3 linked regions of the Homo sapiens genome follow. The protein of the gene in region 3 purifies or fractionates together with the protein of the main gene of each other region. This does not show direct contact. Each region holds a gene or a part of one and is shown on either strand. Other genes may lie near its edges.

Region 1 (4,917 bases), on a different chromosome or scaffold from region 3:
CCGCCCCCAACCAGAGCTCAAGACAATCATTTTATAAAGAACAGAAGTTAAATAAACATTGTAGAATAAGGCCTCTTATGCATTCTGAGTTTTCTAACCTATACCTCATGATTTCATAGTGCAAGGCTGATCGCTAGTTGTTATCTCACATTCTAGAATGCTTTGTCATGACTTAAATGCAGTTATATGTGTCATAAATTCCTTTAATAAAGATAATAATGATGGTGATGTTGAAACCAAATGTTTGACACAATTCTTCCTTATGTCCATTTTAGCAAATATAATGTTAAAATCTGAGGTTAATCCCCAAATTCTGTTCTTATATAACTGCACAAAAAAATAAACTTAATAAATCTAGCGTTTATGTTTCACATTTAATAGAAAAATTTTAAGCCATAATCACTGTAGCTGCTTGGCATCTTCTTCAAGAATTCTTTCAGTGCATGCATTAACTTTGGTTAAATTATTCTGGAGTTAAAAGGCAGAAGAATATATAAAATAGTATGATTTCAGAAGCATCATTCTAACAGACCAATTTCAAAAGATTCAGTTGCTAAATTTTACTTCATAATTCCTTTGTCAATCAGTTATTTAGATTTTAAAAGAGGAGAGAATCCTGTGATGTTATCTGCATGATCATTAGTCTCACACAATGAAAAGAAAACAATAAAATAAGACTAAAGAAATCATTCTTCCAATGATTGTCATTGAACTGTTACATTAGTAAACATTCACAGTTTGAAGTCTCTCTCAATCTCCAGCATATAAAGTAGTGCAAAGAAAAAAAAATCCAGTCCTGTTACCTGCAAACAAAACTTATTACATATTCTCCAATTTCACTTATTCTATAATGTTAGACATTTGCTGTTAAGTCTTCCCAAAATTAATAACAAAATATAATCAATTTCTAAAGGCCCTTGCAGCCTTTTTAAAAGTTAATTTCCAGTTAAAAATAAATTTTAATTAAATCCAAGATAAAATTGTGACCTATAGTCTATTAAATAATTTACTTTCTTTTTTCTCTACACAGTATTTCTTACAATTTTTAAAAAACAACTACAGAATCCAAAGACATACGATATGCTGTTAAAGCACTGATAAATGACTGCTCAGATTCATTAGTTCTTACATAGTAAATACTTCAAAATGCCAACTTTTCCCTTCACTGCACAATTACTAACATTGACAATTTACTTCACACACACACACATATACACACACACGCACACACTCTCTCTCTCCATCTTTACTGTTAACATCTTTTCCAGTTAATGTGCAAAATTCTTGCATTCTAATAAAAATATAAAGATAGATTTGCTCCTATTCCTCCCTCTTCTCCAAGATGTATCATTTATTTGATATGTAATACAAGTTTAGTAACAATTATGCCATGTATAACCATTAAATAGTGTACTACTGTATGCATTGGATCATTTGCATATTTCATTTTCATAACTGCACTCTCTATGCATAAATATATTTGGAGATGCTGAGGGGGGAGCAGTGGCAGGTGGAAAAAGATTCACACATCAGTCTCCACAGCCTTTGCATTAGAACAGTTGTTTTTATCTGTCTCACTGTCATCCCCCTTTCCCTGACACTTCTCCTCCTTTGCACACAGAGATTCCTTAACTCCTTCTTCCATCTCTAGATACTCTGACTTGTCCCCCAGGGAAGAAGAAGTAGAGCTCCGAAATTTCTTGAGCAAATTAGAGGGGAGGTATGGACAACTGACTGCATTCTGCGTTAGCTGTGTCTGTTCCTCATTTTCAGTCTCTCTGTGGTAGAAATAGTTAAAGTTAGAGACAATCACTGGCACTGGCAAAGCAATGGTTAAGACACCCGCAATGGCACACAGGGACCCGACAATCTTGCCCCCTACAGTGATGGGCTTCATGTCCCCATAGCCCACAGTTGTCATGGTCACCACAGCCCACCAAAATGCATCTGGGATGCTTTGGAAATGGGTAGTAGGTTCATCCGCCTCTGCAAAATACACAGCACTAGAAAAGAGGATGACCCCAATGAAGAGGAAGAAGATCAGAAGGCCCAGTTCCCGCATGCTGGCTCTGAGGGTGTGGCCCAGGATCTGCAGGCCTTTGGAGTGCCTGGAGAGTTTGAAGATCCGGAATACTCGGACCAGACGAATGATTCTGAGGATGGCAAAGGACATGGCCTGCTGCTGCTGACCATTGCCACCCCCCTGTTGCTGGGCCAGGTCAGTGCCCAGTGTGATGAAGTAAGGCAAAATGGAGACAATGTCAATGATGTTCATGATGTTTTTGAAGAAGAGTGCTTGGCTGGGACAAGCAAAGCAGCGAACCACAAACTCAAAGGAAAACCATACAATACAGACTGTTTCCACGATGAAGAAGGGGTCATTGAATATTGTGTGCCCTGAGTTCTCCAGATGGGGTGCTGAAGTATCATTCAACAACCCACCATGCCCGCCAGCACTCAGTGCCATGACGAGATCCCTGTCGTCCCTAAACTCAGGCAAGGTTTCCAGGCAAAAGATGACAATGGAGATTAAGATGACCAGGACGGACACAATGGCTATGCCCCTTGCAGGACTGGAGCTCTCTGGATATTCAAAGAGGAGCCAAATCTGCTTTTTAAATTCATTCTCGGGGAGGGCCCTGTCTTCCTCTTCTCTCACAAAGCCCTCGTCCTCCCGAAACTTCAACAGGGCCTCCTCCCCCAACTGATAGAACTTCACCTCCTCAGTGAAGATATCAAAGGGGACATTGACTGGCCTCTTCAGGCGGCCTCCTGATTGATAATAATACAAGATGGCATCAAAGCTGGGGCGGTTCCTGTCAAAAAAATACTCATTGCGCAAAGGGTCAAAGTACTGAGTCCTCTTTTCAGGGTCTCCCAACAAAGTCTCTGGAAACTGGGCCAGAGTTTTCATTTGGGTCTCAAAGCGTAGGCCTGACACATTTATCACCACACGTTCACAACAGTCACTGTAGCGGACTGAACTGTAGCCGCCACCGCCCTCATCCTGAGGCAGCAGATCCGTGTAGGAACACTCATCACCATGGTCATCTTCACTATAGTAAAACCTTCCCTCCTCTTCCTCCTCTTCCTCCTCCTCCTCATCTTCCTCCTCCTCACTCAGCTCCCTCAGGATCTTCTCCTCAGAGCCACTGGGCATCAGGTCAGAGCAATGAGGGAAGCTGCTCTGCCGGTAGTGGGCTTTCTTCTTCTCAGACCGCTGTCGCCTCCTCCTCCGACTACCCCGGCTGCTCTGAGGGTCATGGGAGGTACAGGCCCCGCGTGACTGGTGGTGGTGGTGGGAGCCCCCACCAGAACCCCCGCTACCTTCGACAGCAGCTGTGGCCGCTGCAACAGCAGCTGCTGCAGCTGCCCTGGAGTGAGCAAGCCTCTCCCGCTCCCGGGCCCGGGCCTGGGCAGCATAACCATAAGGCATGTGACTGTTGCACCCTGAGCTCTCCGCACTCACCATTGCAACCTCCATGGTGGTGGTTTTCGGAAATGGCTGGTTCCAGTTGTAGAAGAAGAAGAAAGAAAAATAGGGCAGCTTCTTTTCTCACCAAATTAAGGTAAGTTTGGAACCCTTAAGCAGATTGCTTGGAAGACTAAGGATATTTTCAGTCCAACTTTGCATTTTCTGTTTTTAAATCAGCACGCCCCATGCTCTCTCTTCTCAGGGATTCAACATTGCTCTCCAGAGCTTGGCTGGTCGAGATAAATAGCCTGGCACTCTCAAGACTAAGAAGTCCGAAAATGCTGGAGTCTCTCAGACACCTATGTTTTGGGGGTAGATGTTGAAATTTGGAAATATGTCTGGGATGTGGTTAGTGATGTTGCTGCAAGATTCAAAGGCAGCAAGTGTCTGACAGCCAGAAGTTGTGCCTAGAAAATGAAATATATTTTTCTGCCATGGAAATTGGCCAATGCTCAGTCCATTAAATGTAAATAAAATGCAAATAAGCCTTTACTGTTAGCACTTGCCTTCTAGTGATGGCTCGAACCATGTTAAGATGTGGTTTGAAGTATGTCCAGCCATTTCTACTCAAAGTCTATCAGGATGATTCTCCAGGCTCTCCTTTTAAGTTCATCAAAGGCTTCCTGTACCCAGGTACAATGCCAAACCACAGATAGAGGCAAAGACCCTGGGAGGTAGAGAAGGTGCTAGATGAGGTGTCAGCAGAAGCAAAACCAGCTCTGAGGTCTCCATAGAAATCAAGGAAATGCAGAGCATTCTTCAGCCAAAATCATGCAGAAGAAGCACTTCACCTGAAAAAGGATTGGAAAGAAGCATAGGAGAAAAATAAAAAGGAAACAAATCATAAAGAGCAAACTGAGCATTTCTCTTCACATACACATCCTTCTCTTTTCTTCAAGAAAGTCATATAACACACCAAGCACCAATATTTTCAAGAGTATGGGGCAGGCTATTCTCACTCACTAAACATCATTCTTTCCTTCTTCAGTTATTATTTCAGCTCAGTTTATTTTTATGGTAACTCAATTATTTTTCCTCTCTCCACTCATGGCCCACATGGCTCTTGCTTCTATCTTCCCCTTCACCAATGCTAGGTCTTAATTCTCACTGTCACTCTCTTCATTCCACAAAAAATAATGCTGTGACTTTACAGCTGCTTCCATCATTCATCTATTTCAAGGCAATTTTTAAAATTTCCACTCATAAAGTGTTTCTGAATTAAGTGCCCTTCTACTCCTCTCTATCTTGACTCAGCACTGGGGAAGTCAGAAAAAAAAATAATAATATTCTTATTCTTTGTGCAGACAGCACCACTTGAATGCACTTCAGTCACCTCATCTATAAAGTACAAATAATAACACAACCTCCCCCATCCCATGTTTGTAAGGATTAAATGAGATAATGGATGTTGATAGAATATCTCAGTGCCTTTTACCTAATGA
Region 2 (7,019 bases), on a different chromosome or scaffold from region 3:
TAACTGGTTTACCAGAGGAATAAAAAAGAAGCTGGAAAAGCAGCTCCGAGCGCACTTCTCTTACTCAAGCTCTCTGGACCATGCCTGGGTTTCCTGGTGGAGCCCTGCCAGAGCTGGCTAGGGATGCTTTAGAGATGTGGTCTTTTCAGCAGCAACCTCTCTTCCTCTTGAAAGAAAGGAGCAGAGGGATCCTGAGCCCCGAGACTTGGACAGACAGACTGGCTAGTATTTTTACCTGGCTGGCAGGGTGTGTCAGACAAGGCCACTGCTAGGATCCTGTCCTCACATTGGGCTTCCTGCATCTATGAACTCCCTGCACCACAGAGGAGTAAAATCAATGTCTGACAGAAAGACTAGTGGCATATTTTCTGCCTCCCTCTGTCCCTTTAAATGCTGTCCAATGGGGAAAGTTTTTCCCTGACCTAGTTGAAAATCCAGCAGGTCTCCTTGTTTTGTGTTACTCATATAATAAACAGAGCTATAGTCACCTCAGGTCTCAAACACAAGAAATTAAGCCATACAGTCCAAAATATGAAATTGTTGCTTTTTGCCCACAAAGTTGAAGTGGTCTGTGATAATGCAGTGGTATATAACCCGAACAAATGGTTATAAGTCTTCAGATGGTTAGGTCCCATCTCTACAACCACTTTGCGTACTTAGCTAATCTCAGAAACCACCTTTCAGTTCCTATTCCCAGGTTTCCCCTCCCTCGCTGCTCCAACAGCTGAATTTCCTTCCCCTAGTTCAATTGCGTTCAGTACATATTTAGTGAAATGCATAATATGGACGTGGCACCATGTTTGGTGTTGTGAAGAAAATCAAAGATCAATAAAAAATGTTCCTTGAGTTCAAAATATCTCTCTCTCTCTGTTAGCTCTCTCCCTCTCTCTCATCTACCTACCTATCATTTATAAATAGATAAATAGGTAACTAGAGAGTAGCTAGCTAGAAAGGTAGGTAGGTAAATAGATAGATAGATTGATGGATAGACAGATATAGTGTGGTAGATACCATTTGCAGATGCGATAGCTAGATAGCTAGATACATACATGCATACATACACAGAGATAAAAATCTATTCTTATGGGAATGTGATCTCTAGACAGGTGCATCAGTATCACCTGGGCGCTGTGTGAAATGCACTCTAAGCCCTACCCTGGTTCAGAGTCTGCATGTTAACAAGATCCTCAGGCAATGGTGCACATTAAGCACTGCTATAAAAGAGTTAACCTCGTAGGATTAGATAGTAAAGAAGGCAGCTTTCAGTTATACAATGTGTGCTCTGGGAAGAAGACAGAGATCGAGGTAGGAGTGTAAGAGGTTTACTGGGAGATAATAAAGAAAGTTAAAAGTGATAGGAAGAAGAATTCATTAGGGAAAGCATTCAGATTATGATGCTGATCTGGCACTTGTGAAAGGAAGGAGGGGAGGAAGAGGGGTTGGACAGAGTCTCAGAGTGGAATGTAGATCTTTCAAAGTCTTGGCCAATCTGCTGGGGAAATGCAGAGCAAAGATTGCCATTAGTGGAAATCTGCACTGAGTAGAAATGGCCAGGTCTTTGTAACCCTGCTGTGCTCAGAGGGCTACCCCAAAGGAGTGTGGCCCCTGCACTAAAGCTGAGGCAGTGCCAACAGCTGGAGCCTGTCAGCTAACTGCACTCTGGCAGTTGAAAAGCAAATTCTTTCTTTAAGGGAGATTTGAGCAGTATACCTCCATGGCTACCACATGTGACATCTGAAGGTAATTTTGCCAGAAACCTATAAGAACTGGCAAATGCATGGGAAACAGATTTAAGGAAATACCACATTAAAGGAGGCCTGGGTTTTGTGCTTTTCCTGGACTGTTTATGTTGTACTCTTATTCTTCAGGGAACAATCTCCCAGAAAGCCCCTGAAAGACAAGCTCCAGAGAATTCTTTCCTCTGGGGAGCCCGAGGAGAACCCAGGTGAACCAATGTAGCATCCTTATATTTACAAGATGCATGAATCAGTAGACAAGACTGTCATGGGTCTCTGACCTCACTGTCTGCAAGCTCAGTAAGTCCCAGGCTCCCCAGGAAAAATACCTGATCCTGACTGGCAACCTCAGAGCCAGAGAAGAATGAAAGCCCACTGGAGATGAAGCAGGGATGGCACAGATATGGGGAAAGGGGATGCAAGGCCCTGTGGTTAACCAGTGATGCCTTCACATACTGATTTTCATGTTCATACCCTTCCTCACTCATGCACGTCTGCAAAGACAGCCAACAATATGCACAGTCACACAGAATGAAAATACTTACGCACACCAAATTCACATCCACCTTCACATATAAACTCTTAAAAAGCCATATGCACACATACTTCTCAAACCTTGACCCAAGTTTGTGTGTCTATGCGCTGCTATTGCAACACACACTTGTGCACCCAGGACCAAGTTTCCAAATCACACCCTTTGGATAGAGACATTCATTGACAAGAGGTCCTAACTTCACGCATATAAATCTGAAGCAATATGCAGAAACAAAAATAGACAATGAAAACAGACATTCAAAAACACAGCCACTTTATGATAATTTAAAACCAAGAAACTTCTGGAGACTGTGTCTGGCAGTTCCAGACACACACCTTGAAACAGATTCCTCTTGGTTACCAATGCCTGCTAAAACCCTGCAGGGGTTGAGACAGGGCAGGGGAAGATTTCCTAGTGTCCCAACCTAGAAAGATTAATATGTTATATCAGCCATCATCCTGCCTTCTGCAGCAGGGAACTAAAGTTCTCAGGCCAGATGTTGGAGTGAGGGAGTGCTTGTATCAGGAAAAGGGATTATGCATTTCTATAGAGGAGTGAAATATAGGGGACAAGGGCCAAACTCTGATTGTTTGAGTTTGAGTTCCAGCATCATCAGTTTCCACCTGCATAAGCCTGGGTGAGTCTGTCAATCTCTCTGTGCCTCAGTTTCTTCATTTATAAAATGGTGATGATAATAGTACTTACAAAATAGGTTGCTGTAGGAATACACAGAGACAATATTTGTAAAGTGCTGAGAGTGGGCTGGTGCATAATGAGAGCCAAGTAAGTATTGGTTGTTATTATTCCATTCTTGGGAATGCTCCAGCCTTGGAGATTGGACAACCTCCCTGGCTCCCTCTCATAAGCCACCTCCACCCTCAGTCTCCTTCATGGACCTAGATGCAGTTGCTCGGTCCAAGATTCACCAGGCAGGATTAGCCCTCACCAGGATTGTAAAAATCGCTTCTCCCCTTCCCTGCTGTGGTTTTTGCAAATGGGATTCGTTGGAGCGGGTGGAGGGGTTCTGCTGGGTTGAGACCAGACAGCTCATCTCCTGACTAGGCTGCTTGCCTGGGCTGCCACCAGGTCTGTACTGGAAACAGGCTAGGGCATGGGAATCCTGCAGGGTTCCAACCCCCTTGTACATTTTTGTGGATCTGTAGGAAGACGGGAAGAGAGATGCTTCTCCATTGATACATGTATTTCAAGGTCCGTAACTACGTGGCCCCCCTCCCTTCTGTAATCCTTCCCAAAGAAATACCGTTATTTCTCCAAAATAAAAAGGACTGGTGTCTCCCGTCTCTGTCTCTCATACTCCGACTCAGCTCAAAGCCTCGTCCCTTTAGCCCAAGGCACTTCGTTCCTCCTGGAGTCCACTCGGCTTCCAGCGGGTTCCCAGGTGAACTGAAATCCAGAGCTATTCTCATCTGGTTGCCCTGGGAATTTCAGCGCTGTCGGTACAACCTGTTCCTCCATCCTCCCCACTCCTTCCCTCCCTCCGCTGGGCTGCACCCTTCTCAGCCCCTCCTTTCCCTTGCTAGGGGCCCCAGCTGCGCCCTCCGGGGAGACACCCGCTGCCACGAGACCCGGGAGGGGAAGCGGGAGGAGGGGGAGAGGAGGGGAAGGCGGGGGAGGCGCCGAGGGTGGAGGCCAAGCGCGGCGCAGCCAGAGAGGGGCGGCTGAAGGTTGCATCTGCTGGAAGGAGGCTTTTCGGCTGCTTGGTAACGGGCTGCCAGAAGAGAGAGAGGCAGAGAGCAGGGCAGCGGCTTCTTGACGTCAGGGCCAAGCGAGGGGATCGCGCCAGCAACCCCAGCTCTCCCCAGAGAGGGGCCGGCCGACCGCTGGAGCGGAGCCTGACGCCAGGCGCCCGCGGAGCGTGAGTAGGGGGCGCGGGAGCCGGTCAGCTGGGGCGCAGCATGCCCTCTGCTCCCGCGCCATGGAGATCGCCCTGGTGCCCCTGGAGAACGGCGGTGCCATGACCGTCAGAGGAGGCGATGAGGCCCGGGCAGGCTGCGGCCAGGCCACAGGGGGAGAGCTCCAGTGTCCCCCGACGGCTGGGCTCAGCGATGGGCCCAAGGAGCCGGCGCCAAAGGGGCGCGGCGCGCAGAGAGACGCGGACTCGGGAGTGCGGCCCTTGCCTCCGCTGCCGGACCCGGGAGTGCGGCCCTTGCCTCCGCTGCCAGAGGAGCTGCCACGGCCTCGACGGCCGCCTCCCGAGGACGAGGAGGAAGAAGGCGATCCCGGCCTGGGCACGGTGGAGGACCAGGCTCTGGGCACGGCGTCCCTGCACCACCAGCGCGTCCACATCAACATCTCCGGGCTGCGCTTTGAGACGCAGCTGGGCACCCTGGCGCAGTTCCCCAACACACTCCTGGGGGACCCCGCCAAGCGCCTGCGCTACTTCGACCCCCTGAGGAACGAGTACTTCTTCGACCGCAACCGGCCCAGCTTCGACGGTATCCTCTACTACTACCAGTCCGGGGGCCGCCTGCGGAGGCCGGTCAACGTCTCCCTGGACGTGTTCGCGGACGAGATACGCTTCTACCAGCTGGGGGACGAGGCCATGGAGCGCTTCCGCGAGGATGAGGGCTTCATTAAAGAAGAGGAGAAGCCCCTGCCCCGCAACGAGTTCCAGCGCCAGGTGTGGCTTATCTTCGAGTATCCGGAGAGCTCTGGGTCCGCGCGGGCCATCGCCATCGTCTCGGTCTTGGTTATCCTCATCTCCATCATCACCTTCTGCTTGGAGACCCTGCCTGAGTTCAGGGATGAACGTGAGCTGCTCCGCCACCCTCCGGCGCCCCACCAGCCTCCCGCGCCCGCCCCTGGGGCCAACGGCAGCGGGGTCATGGCCCCGCCCTCTGGCCCTACGGTGGCACCGCTCCTGCCCAGGACCCTGGCCGACCCCTTCTTCATCGTGGAGACCACGTGCGTCATCTGGTTCACCTTCGAGCTGCTCGTGCGCTTCTTCGCCTGCCCCAGCAAGGCAGGGTTCTCCCGGAACATCATGAACATCATCGATGTGGTGGCCATCTTCCCCTACTTCATCACCCTGGGCACCGAACTGGCAGAGCAGCAGCCAGGGGGTGGAGGAGGCGGCCAGAATGGGCAGCAGGCCATGTCCCTGGCCATCCTCCGAGTCATCCGCCTGGTCCGGGTGTTCCGCATCTTCAAGCTCTCCCGCCACTCCAAGGGGCTGCAGATCCTGGGCAAGACCTTGCAGGCCTCCATGAGGGAGCTGGGGCTGCTCATCTTCTTCCTCTTCATCGGGGTCATCCTCTTCTCCAGTGCCGTCTACTTCGCAGAGGCTGACAACCAGGGAACCCATTTCTCTAGCATCCCTGACGCCTTCTGGTGGGCAGTGGTCACCATGACCACTGTGGGCTACGGGGACATGAGGCCCATCACTGTTGGGGGCAAGATCGTGGGCTCGCTGTGTGCCATCGCCGGGGTCCTCACCATTGCCCTGCCTGTGCCCGTCATCGTCTCCAACTTCAACTACTTCTACCACCGGGAAACGGATCACGAGGAGCCGGCAGTCCTTAAGGAAGAGCAGGGCACTCAGAGCCAGGGGCCGGGGCTGGACAGAGGAGTCCAGCGGAAGGTCAGCGGGAGCAGGGGATCCTTCTGCAAGGCTGGGGGGACCCTGGAGAATGCAGACAGTGCCCGAAGGGGCAGCTGCCCCCTAGAGAAGTGTAACGTCAAGGCCAAGAGCAACGTGGACTTGCGGAGGTCCCTTTATGCCCTCTGCCTGGACACCAGCCGGGAAACAGATTTGTGAAAGGAGATTCAGGCAGACTGGTGGCAGTGGAGTAGGGAATGGGAGGCTTGCTGAACATGGATATCTACATTATACCGCAGAGTATTTGAAGTCACACTGTAACCTCAGTCTACCCCTCTCCTTTCACTCCTTTCCTCCCTCCCTCGATCCCCCCATTTTCTCTATTCTTTCCATGACACCCAAGGGTCGCCTATTTTTAAAAAGTACCACATTCCATGACGCAGGAGCTGTGGAAATGGTGAGCGCTGTGAGATGGATGTATTTGTAGCCAGTCTCCTATACCCAGCAGAGGGATAACCCAAACAAAAATGACTCTAAATAGCCCAGATCCCAAGAGATTATGTAACTCCTCCATCCATGTGTTCCAAATTTGCTTTACATATGATTGTATTTGTGTATAGGGGAAAATATTATTTTTATGCCTGGTAAGTGGCTTTTTGTACTGTAGTTCAGATAGAGATATTTTGGGTATATTTTCAAGATACATGTTGTATTTATGGAAGAAAGAGTTGTCCTGATGTTTTTCTGTGTTACTTATATTAGAGTCAGAGATCTTGGTATGGGCTGTTCTGTTTCCTGTGTCTCCAAGCCTCTGTCTTTTCTGGGATGTGGTATTGGTGCTTTGTGTCTAGGGCAGAGTATGTTCTTGAAGAAAGGCAAATCTGACTTTTTCTGTGCGCCTTAAACAATTCTTGTAACTTTCTTCAAAAAGCATTTTAATGATATTGGAGGAATACTTCTGATAATTTATTGTCTTTATTTTTATCCCAGGAAATAAAAGGTTACCTTGTTGAGGCAAGTGTTAGTTTTTCTGCAGCTGATACATTTTCTGAAATTTTTAAAAATAGTCTGTCACTGGCTGTTTCTGGTTTTGACATCAGAGCAAACGCATTGACTGGGGTTAGAGGAAATCTGAAAAGCTCATGATTTGCTTGGCGACGTCTTTTCAGTGCACCCCTTGGTGCCTCAT
Region 3 (7,116 bases):
TCTCGGACCCGCAGCTGCCACTTCCCACCAGGGCTCTCTGCTTCGACTTTTGCTTCCCAAAGCCTCCCCGATGGAGCAGCCGGAGAGCAGCCTCCCTTTCCAGGCTGAGCTGCAGCTCGCCCTCCTCTGCCCACAATTTTGCCACGGCTCCCGTCTCACTCAGAAGTCCCTGGAGGTGTTTCGTGCCTCTCAGGATCTGCCCCTCTGCTCCAGGCCTTTTTGGGCCTTTGCATCAACTCTTCCTGCTGGTGGAAGGTTCTTCCCGCAGGCATTTGCGTGACTTACTCCGCATCTCTCAAGACTGCTCAAGCACCACCTTCTCAACAAGCCCACCTGACAGGCCCCCTTGAACCTGAGTCTGCAGCGCCACCGTCCCTGGCCCCAGCTCCCTCCCTTTATCTCTGGCTTCTCTCCTACAGCGCTCGTCCACCCTGACACACATTCTAACCTCCTTGTTTCGTGCAGTTAGTGTTCATGTCTGTTCCTGCTGGAAAGCAAGCTCTCCAGGAGCACAACTCTGATGGTTCACGGGCGCATCCTGAGTGCCTAGAACAGAGCCTGGCACGCAGGACGAGCCTGGGAGGATGCACTGGACGGGGCTCGGGCTGGGATGGGCCCTCTGCCCAGCAGGGCCTCTCACTCTTACCTGTATTGCCCCAATGTTCTCCATGAGCTGGTCCGCATTGGAGGCCCCCAGGAGCACGGAGCTGACTCCCTCATTCCTCAGGCACCAGGCTGTGGCGGCGAGACCCAAGGTGAGGGAGAAACACCCACCACAGGGGCCCCTGATGGGTCTGCCTTGCCTCTGACTGGGCCGAGAGACCCAGCATCTTGGTCTGGGGGTCTGAGGGGGTCTAGGAAGCCCTGCAGTGCTGGGCACGGGCTTTGTCTAAGAGGTGGCTGGAGGAGGCATGGGGGAGCCCGCTGCTCCCTGATGGAGAGGTGGCCCAAGTGCTTAGCGCTCCCCATCCTCTTCCCATGAAAGCGGGAGCCCCATTACCTATGGCTGGCAGATGGAGGGGGTGGCCCAGGTCCTCAGGGACTCCTGACATCCCCCTAGAGGCATGGGGTCCCAACCATGCCCCTTAGAGCCCGATTACCCGAGGCTGGCTGGGGGATGATGTCCAGGGATCCCTTCCCTCTCTCCCCGGAGACACTGGCCCCATGGCAACCCCACCCTGTTACCTACGGCCAGCTGGGGCAGGTTCTCCCCAGGGGCACTGGCCCCATGGCGACCCCACCGTTACCTATGGCCAGCTGGGGCAGGGTGCAGCCCAGGCGCTCGGCGATGGCCTGCAGCTCCTTCAGCTTGGCTTGCTGGCGCCGGCCCTCCTCACTGAGGATCTTGTCCTTCAGCCACTGGTAGCCCTGGTTGCGGGGGAGGGGAGCAGCACAGCTACAGATGAGAGCAGGTCACCTGGACCCCCACGTGCAGGGGGCCGATGGGCTCATTCCTTCTGGACCCTTCTCCCTCATAGGGGCTCTTCTCATCTTGAAGCCAGGGCAGTGCCCCTGCCCCAGGCCTCTCAAGTAGGGGAGAGTGGGCAGTGGGCCGGGCACGGGCTGGTGGATGAGCGGGGCCTGTCCAGGCTCTGAAGTGCAAAGACTGTGGTGCTGGCCCAACCCCAAGTCAGGACAAGGAGGCGAGGTGCTGGCCTTCCTTCTCTTAGGAAACTTGGCAGCCTGGGGTCTCGGCTGCCACCCGTGGCCCAGAAGAACCTCCTGGCCCTAGGGGAGTGCTCTCTCCCCTGGCCATCCCCCCCAGAGGATTGCAGGGCCTCCTGGAGGGGGGCCCTGACCTTGCCATGGGATGGGAGGAGTCGGGGGCCAGGCCACGTTGCCCTGGAACCCAGGGCTGTGGGCCCCAGTGCTGAGACTGCTGGCTGGGCAGACTTTCTTGGCCTGCTCCTTGTTCTCCAGATCCTGCAGTCTGGGGACCCTCCTGAGTCCCCACTCAGAGGTTGTGTGGTGGGGAGGGGCGCCTCTCCCAGGGTCACCTCCATGTGGCTTTGCAGCCCCCATCTCGGAGCCCAGGCCCAGGGGTCTCAGAGTTCTGAATGCTGGGCTGTGGTGGGGGGCAGAGGTGGGGGATGTGGTAGGGGGTAGAGATGGGGGGATGTGGTGGGGGCAGGGGGGGGGATGTGAAAGGGCCTCTCCACTTGGGCCTGTGCCACAGGCTGGGCAGCCCCTCTACACATGGGATCAGGCCAGGAGGGGCTCCATGTTCTCACGCCAAGGAGCCCGCCCCCAGCAGACCGAGGTGGGAACAGCTGCAGCTCCCGGAACCCCTGCCCAGCACCAAAGCAGTCGGCCCAAAGGTCCCACCCGTCCAAAATGCCTATCCCCTGCCCGTCCCTCCCCACCAGGCTGTTCCTTCACCTTCAAGGAGGCTCTTGAGTAGGGTGGGATGCCACTGTCGTACTTGCCAGAAACAATGCCACAGGCCAGAGGGGACCAGGTCATGGCGCCCACTCCTGAAGAGGAAAAGCAGGTGGAGTCAAGCCCTGGGCCCGAGAGCAGGGGTGGGGTGGGGCGGGGCGAGGGGCCCGAGGGTGCCCACCTATCTTGTGGAACAGCTCCGGCAGCTGCACCTCCACTTTCTCACGCTGGAACATGTGGTACTCAGCCTGCTCGCAGATGGGCGGGGTCAGGTTGAACTGCCGGGCCACGGAGTAGGCCTCCTGTGAAGGCAGAAAGGGACCCCGAGGGCCCTTGCCTGTGAGCAGGCGGGAGGCTGCCGGGGCAGCCATGGAGAGGGCACCAAGGTGTCCCCGGAGCAGGCTGGCCCAGCAGCTGCAGCCCGGGCTCCCCACTGCTCACACTCATAGCTTCCCTGGGAGCCAGGCAGGCCCTGGTGAGCTGGGAAAAGGAGGTGGGTGGTGGGACCCCCAGGCCGGAGGGTCCAGTTATGAGCAGCCCAGGCTCTGAACCACACAGCCTGGATGTTAATCTTGGCCCAAGCTGTGTGACCTTGGCATGTTACTGAACCTCTCTGTGCCACAGTGTCCACATCTGAAAAATGGGCTGCCTGCGGCACTCACCTGGTAAAGGCACCGGTGAGGATTGCATGTGAGAGGGTCCCTGTGGAACCCTTGACCCTAACAGCACCGGGCACGTCTCAGGAGCCCAGTGGAAACAGCTGACGGTGTTGTCACCCCAGAGTGCTTGCTGAGCTCCAGGGCATCTGCTAAGAGCTTCACACTGGCTCTCTCAGGGACTCCTTAGAATGGCCCCATGGGGGCTCACCTAGCAGATGTGTTCTACAGGTGGGGAAACAAGCTCAGAGACGTTAAGCCATTTGTCCAGGGCCACACAGCGCTGGGATCCATGCAGAATCCCCGTCTGCAAGGCCTACAGACATAACCACCACACTCCACCATCCTGTCCCTCCCTTAGCACCCAGGCATCGGTGCAGTTGGGACCAAAGGCACAGACCCCGCCAGAGCTTTGGGGTCTCCATACGCAGCCGGTGCCGGGAGTCTGTGCCTGGACACACACATGCTGCGCGGCCACCGTACCATGATCTCCATGGAGCTCCAGCGTGACGTGCCCCAGTACATGGCCATCCCCTGGTTGATGACGTGGGTCATGGCGCGGACGGTCTCTGTCGTGAGAGAAAGGGAAACCGCAGGTGGGGGGCAGCCAGGGCTCAGGGCCAGCCTCGGGACATTCTGCAAATACAGGCAGGACGCTGGGAGGAGGGACAGGGGCTGCGAAGATGTCTTGCAAGCAGTGTACTTCCTGGCTCTGAAGTTGGGTGTGGGAGGGGTTTTTTGGGATGAAAGAGAAAAGTGAACCACAATCCTAGAAGTTGGTCGTGAAAACAATTTCCCCGACTGGTTACAGGCCTATGGAAATGTTGAAAAATGGGTTATGGATGGACCGTGATGTTTCTATGGTAGATTAGAGGGGACAATCAAAGAATGTGGCTCTGGACTCTAGAACTGGAGGTTCTCTGGTCTGGGGAAGATTCGAGGGCCCCGATCACTCAGGAAGGACCAGGTGAATGCATGAACGTTACAGTCAGATTGGCGGCAGGAGGGACATGTGTTTTTGCGTTTCTGGTCTCCTACTTCGGGCTATTCCAAAGTCTAATTGGAACAGAGAGTGGGCTGGATAAGGAGATGTGGCAGGACCTGGGGCGCCATATGGTCCCGGAGAATAGGGCTTCGGGGCTGAGCTCATGTTTCCTGTCATGTCCAGGAGACTGAGAAGTGGGCGTGGAAAGCCTTGTAAGACCATGGCCCAGGTTCTCAAACCAGCCCAGCACCAGGCCAGAGTCCCAACCCGCCTGTCCCCTGGCAAGGGGTGGTCCCAGGGCCACAGGGGTCTGGGTGCTCCTCCTGTGAGGGGCCAGGGCCTGGAGTAGGACAGTTTTGAGGCTCCATGAGCCCTGGGAACAACCTGAATCGTGGACGGCGGAGACTCCTAAGGCCCTGAGGATGAAATCGCGGAGACTTCACGCTGGCCTTTTAAAGAAGAGAGGAGGGACCCTCGCCCCAGCGACACAGTGGATTCTTCCCAATATTCAAACATGGCTTTGAGACACAGCAATCTGCTGGTTATAGCTCCCTCTCAGCCTCATGGGGATATTGTGATTTTAAAAACAGAACTTGGCGTCGAAATTTCAAATTTCAGAAGCCTCTGAGCTTTGCAGGGCGAGGGACTATGGCGCTAGGCTTCTCACGGGTCGGATACAGTGCTTGCAAGTTCGACCGCCAAAGGCAGTGTGGGAGTGAGTGGGAGTGCAAGTGTTTCTAAAGACAGCAACAACGTTGACCCTGGAAAAGCCCTGGCTCTCCCTCAGTGCCTGCTTGTCCTTTGCCCATGCTGCGTGGAAGCTGAGGTCCTGAAAATGCTGGGAGTGGGGCTGATGGGAAGGAAGGAAGGATGGAAGATGCTGGGTTTGTTCTGCAGGCTCCCCCCTGGAATGGCAACGAGGCCACAAAGTGGCAGTGCTGGCTTCCCGTCCACTTCTGTTTTGGGGGTCGCTCCCTGAGTGCCCCTTTACTGAGGTCCACCCTGAGCAGAACCTGGGGCCTCCTAAAGGCTAGAGCTGAGGCCACTGGGGTTTCTGGAGTGGTGGTCTCGGCAGACTCACCCAGGACCCCTGGCAAACCACCCTTGGCTTCCACGCTTGCAGGCCCAGCCCTGCTCTCTGCTTACTTCCAAGGTCAGAGGTTGTAGCTCCTGGGAATCCTCTCTGTCCCCTCCTGGGGGTGGAGATCTGGGAGGGAGTCTGAACTCTCTGGGCCACCTCCCTGGGCCACCTGCTTTAACTGCCAACTCCGATAGACCCTCAGGAAGTGCCTGGTTGGGAAAGTTTGAGGAGAACCTAGAGGGTCCCAGGAGAATCTCTGACTACATCCTGCCCAGGTCCGGGCTCCTGGCCTGCCCGGCCTTGTGGTTTTTTAGAAACACTCTCGGGGCACCTGTGAGCATGCAGCATCAGTTCCCGATTCTTCTCAGCCAAGGCTTAGGTCCACATGCCAGACAGAGGGAAGCCAAGGCCCCCAAGGCCAGCCCCGTTCCCTCACTCTCCCTCCCCGGCAGCTGTCTCAGGTCTCCAAGGTCCCAGCCAGTGAAACCGCATGCTGCCCTGCGGCGCCCCTTCCATGCAGTGATGGAGAGACGGGGCTGACGGGGCAGGAGCCTCTGGCTGTCCTGAGGTGGGGAGTCCTAGGCAAAGGCCCCTGGGCTCCCTGGAGGATCTGGGCAGAAGCAGGCTGGACAGGGAGCCCACATGAGGGAGCACCCTGCACTTGTGCCCAAGTGTGATATCAGTGGCCCCAGACCCAGGGACAATTAGGGACAACTGTCCTTCACCTCAATATTTAATGGGGTTGAACGGAAGTAGGAAGACTGAATCCTTCTAGCTGCTGCCAAAACTCACAGCATCTCCTGCCGCATCACAAATAATACATGGGGGTTCAGGTGGCAGCACCAGTTGGCAGACAGGGGCCCAGGCCCAGGGAGATCGACACCTGCCCTTGGGGTGGGGTCCTGGGGCCGTTAGCTGTGGGGAGGGCAGAGAGACTGTGCGTGGCCAGAGGCCACCCCCTGGTTTCAGAAGGCTGCCGGCTCCTGTGGTTATTCTTTCAGGAGGAAAATGATTCCACGTTGATGGAGCGCTTTGGCAACCTGGTGAGAGGGGACACGCAGCCAGCATGCCGTCCGAGGAGCAGCGTGCTGTGGACGGGGCAGCGTGACAAGCCAGGTGATCTCTGCCTCCAGGAGAGACAGGAGCTTAGCAAACATAAACCATGGAGGAGCTAAGACTCGGTGGGGGGCCGCGTGTTTTGGGGTCCCTGATGGCTTTGCTCCTTGTGGAAACCTGGTCTTCCCCAACCCTTCCCATGGCACCATCCAGGGTCAAGGCTCCAGGTGGGGATCACAGCATCCTCAGATCAAGAGGACCCCCGGCCGCCGCGGAGCTCAGCAGTGCAAGCCCAGGGGTGGGGGCCATGCACGGGAGGAAGGAGGAACGAGGGGATGGGGGGCTGGGGGCGAGGGGCTCCAACACCACTTTGCTTTTCCTTCACTTGCAAGGTGTTCTCATAGGGTGCTCTTTCCCCTCTTTATGCATTTTATGGAGAAGTTTCTCATGGGGTAAAAGAATCATGTAAATAAAAATACTGTCTCATAAAATGCAGCTTGGACACAGAAGTCAATAGTCAGGCTGGGGGCACTGTGTACCTTCTATGATGAATGTCCTTGACTTGGAGGAACTAAATGGGTCCCCTGGTGATAGAAGAAAGATTTAAAGAGACCAGAGTTGATAGCTGGGAGCACTGAGAGGCGTGGCACGACGAAGGCACAGCGGGGAGGCACAAATCACCGTGCAGAACACGCGTTTAGTTAAAAAGGAAAAAAATATATCAACACACGCACGTGCGTGCTGTATATGAACAAATAAAAAACAATAACTGGAACACAATTTAACTTTCAAGTCCCTGCAGCAGCAAAGCACACATGGAAAGACGCCTGTAGCAGGAGGATGGGGGAGCGGAGGGGGCTGAGATCGCAGGAGTAGAAAGAATAAAAAACGCCAAAGTAACCAAAACCGATTTTCAAAGCGCTGAACGCTTCTTCTCCTCTATGTAGTAATTTATCCCC

Evidence for each region.
Region 1: the proteins of KCNAB2 (region 3) and KCNA4 purify together in Homo sapiens (affinity purification with western blotting; 2 studies listed by BioGRID and IntAct, with this or other methods). This does not show direct contact.
Region 2: the proteins of KCNAB2 (region 3) and KCNA5 purify together in Homo sapiens (co-immunoprecipitation; 4 studies listed by BioGRID and IntAct, with this or other methods). This does not show direct contact.

What each region holds. Positions count from the first base shown.
Region 1 is NC_000011.10:30,009,195-30,014,111, forward strand, and holds the end of KCNA4 (potassium voltage-gated channel subfamily A member 4), read right to left. Parts: intron 4,267-4,917; 5' UTR 3,485-4,266; coding exon 1,523-3,484; 3' UTR 536-1,522; downstream 1-535. UniProt on the Homo sapiens protein: Voltage-gated potassium channel that mediates transmembrane potassium transport in excitable membranes. Forms tetrameric potassium-selective channels through which potassium ions pass in accordance with their electrochemical gradient.
Region 2 is NC_000012.12:5,039,941-5,046,959, forward strand, and holds KCNA5 (potassium voltage-gated channel subfamily A member 5), read left to right. Parts: upstream 1-3,938; 5' UTR 3,939-4,207; coding exon 4,208-6,049; 3' UTR 6,050-6,848; downstream 6,849-7,019. UniProt on the Homo sapiens protein: Voltage-gated potassium channel that mediates transmembrane potassium transport in excitable membranes. Forms tetrameric potassium-selective channels through which potassium ions pass in accordance with their electrochemical gradient.
Region 3 is NC_000001.11:6,090,888-6,098,003, reverse strand, and holds part of KCNAB2 (voltage-gated potassium channel subunit beta-2), read right to left. Parts: intron 6,742-7,116; coding exon 6,697-6,741; coding exon of another isoform or gene 6,668-6,696; exon of another isoform or gene 3,624-6,667; intron 3,605-3,623; coding exon 3,519-3,604; intron 2,682-3,518; coding exon 2,561-2,681; intron 2,475-2,560; coding exon 2,380-2,474; intron 1,369-2,379; coding exon 1,248-1,368; intron 736-1,247; coding exon 647-735; coding exon of another isoform or gene 473-646; exon of another isoform or gene 449-472; intron 1-448.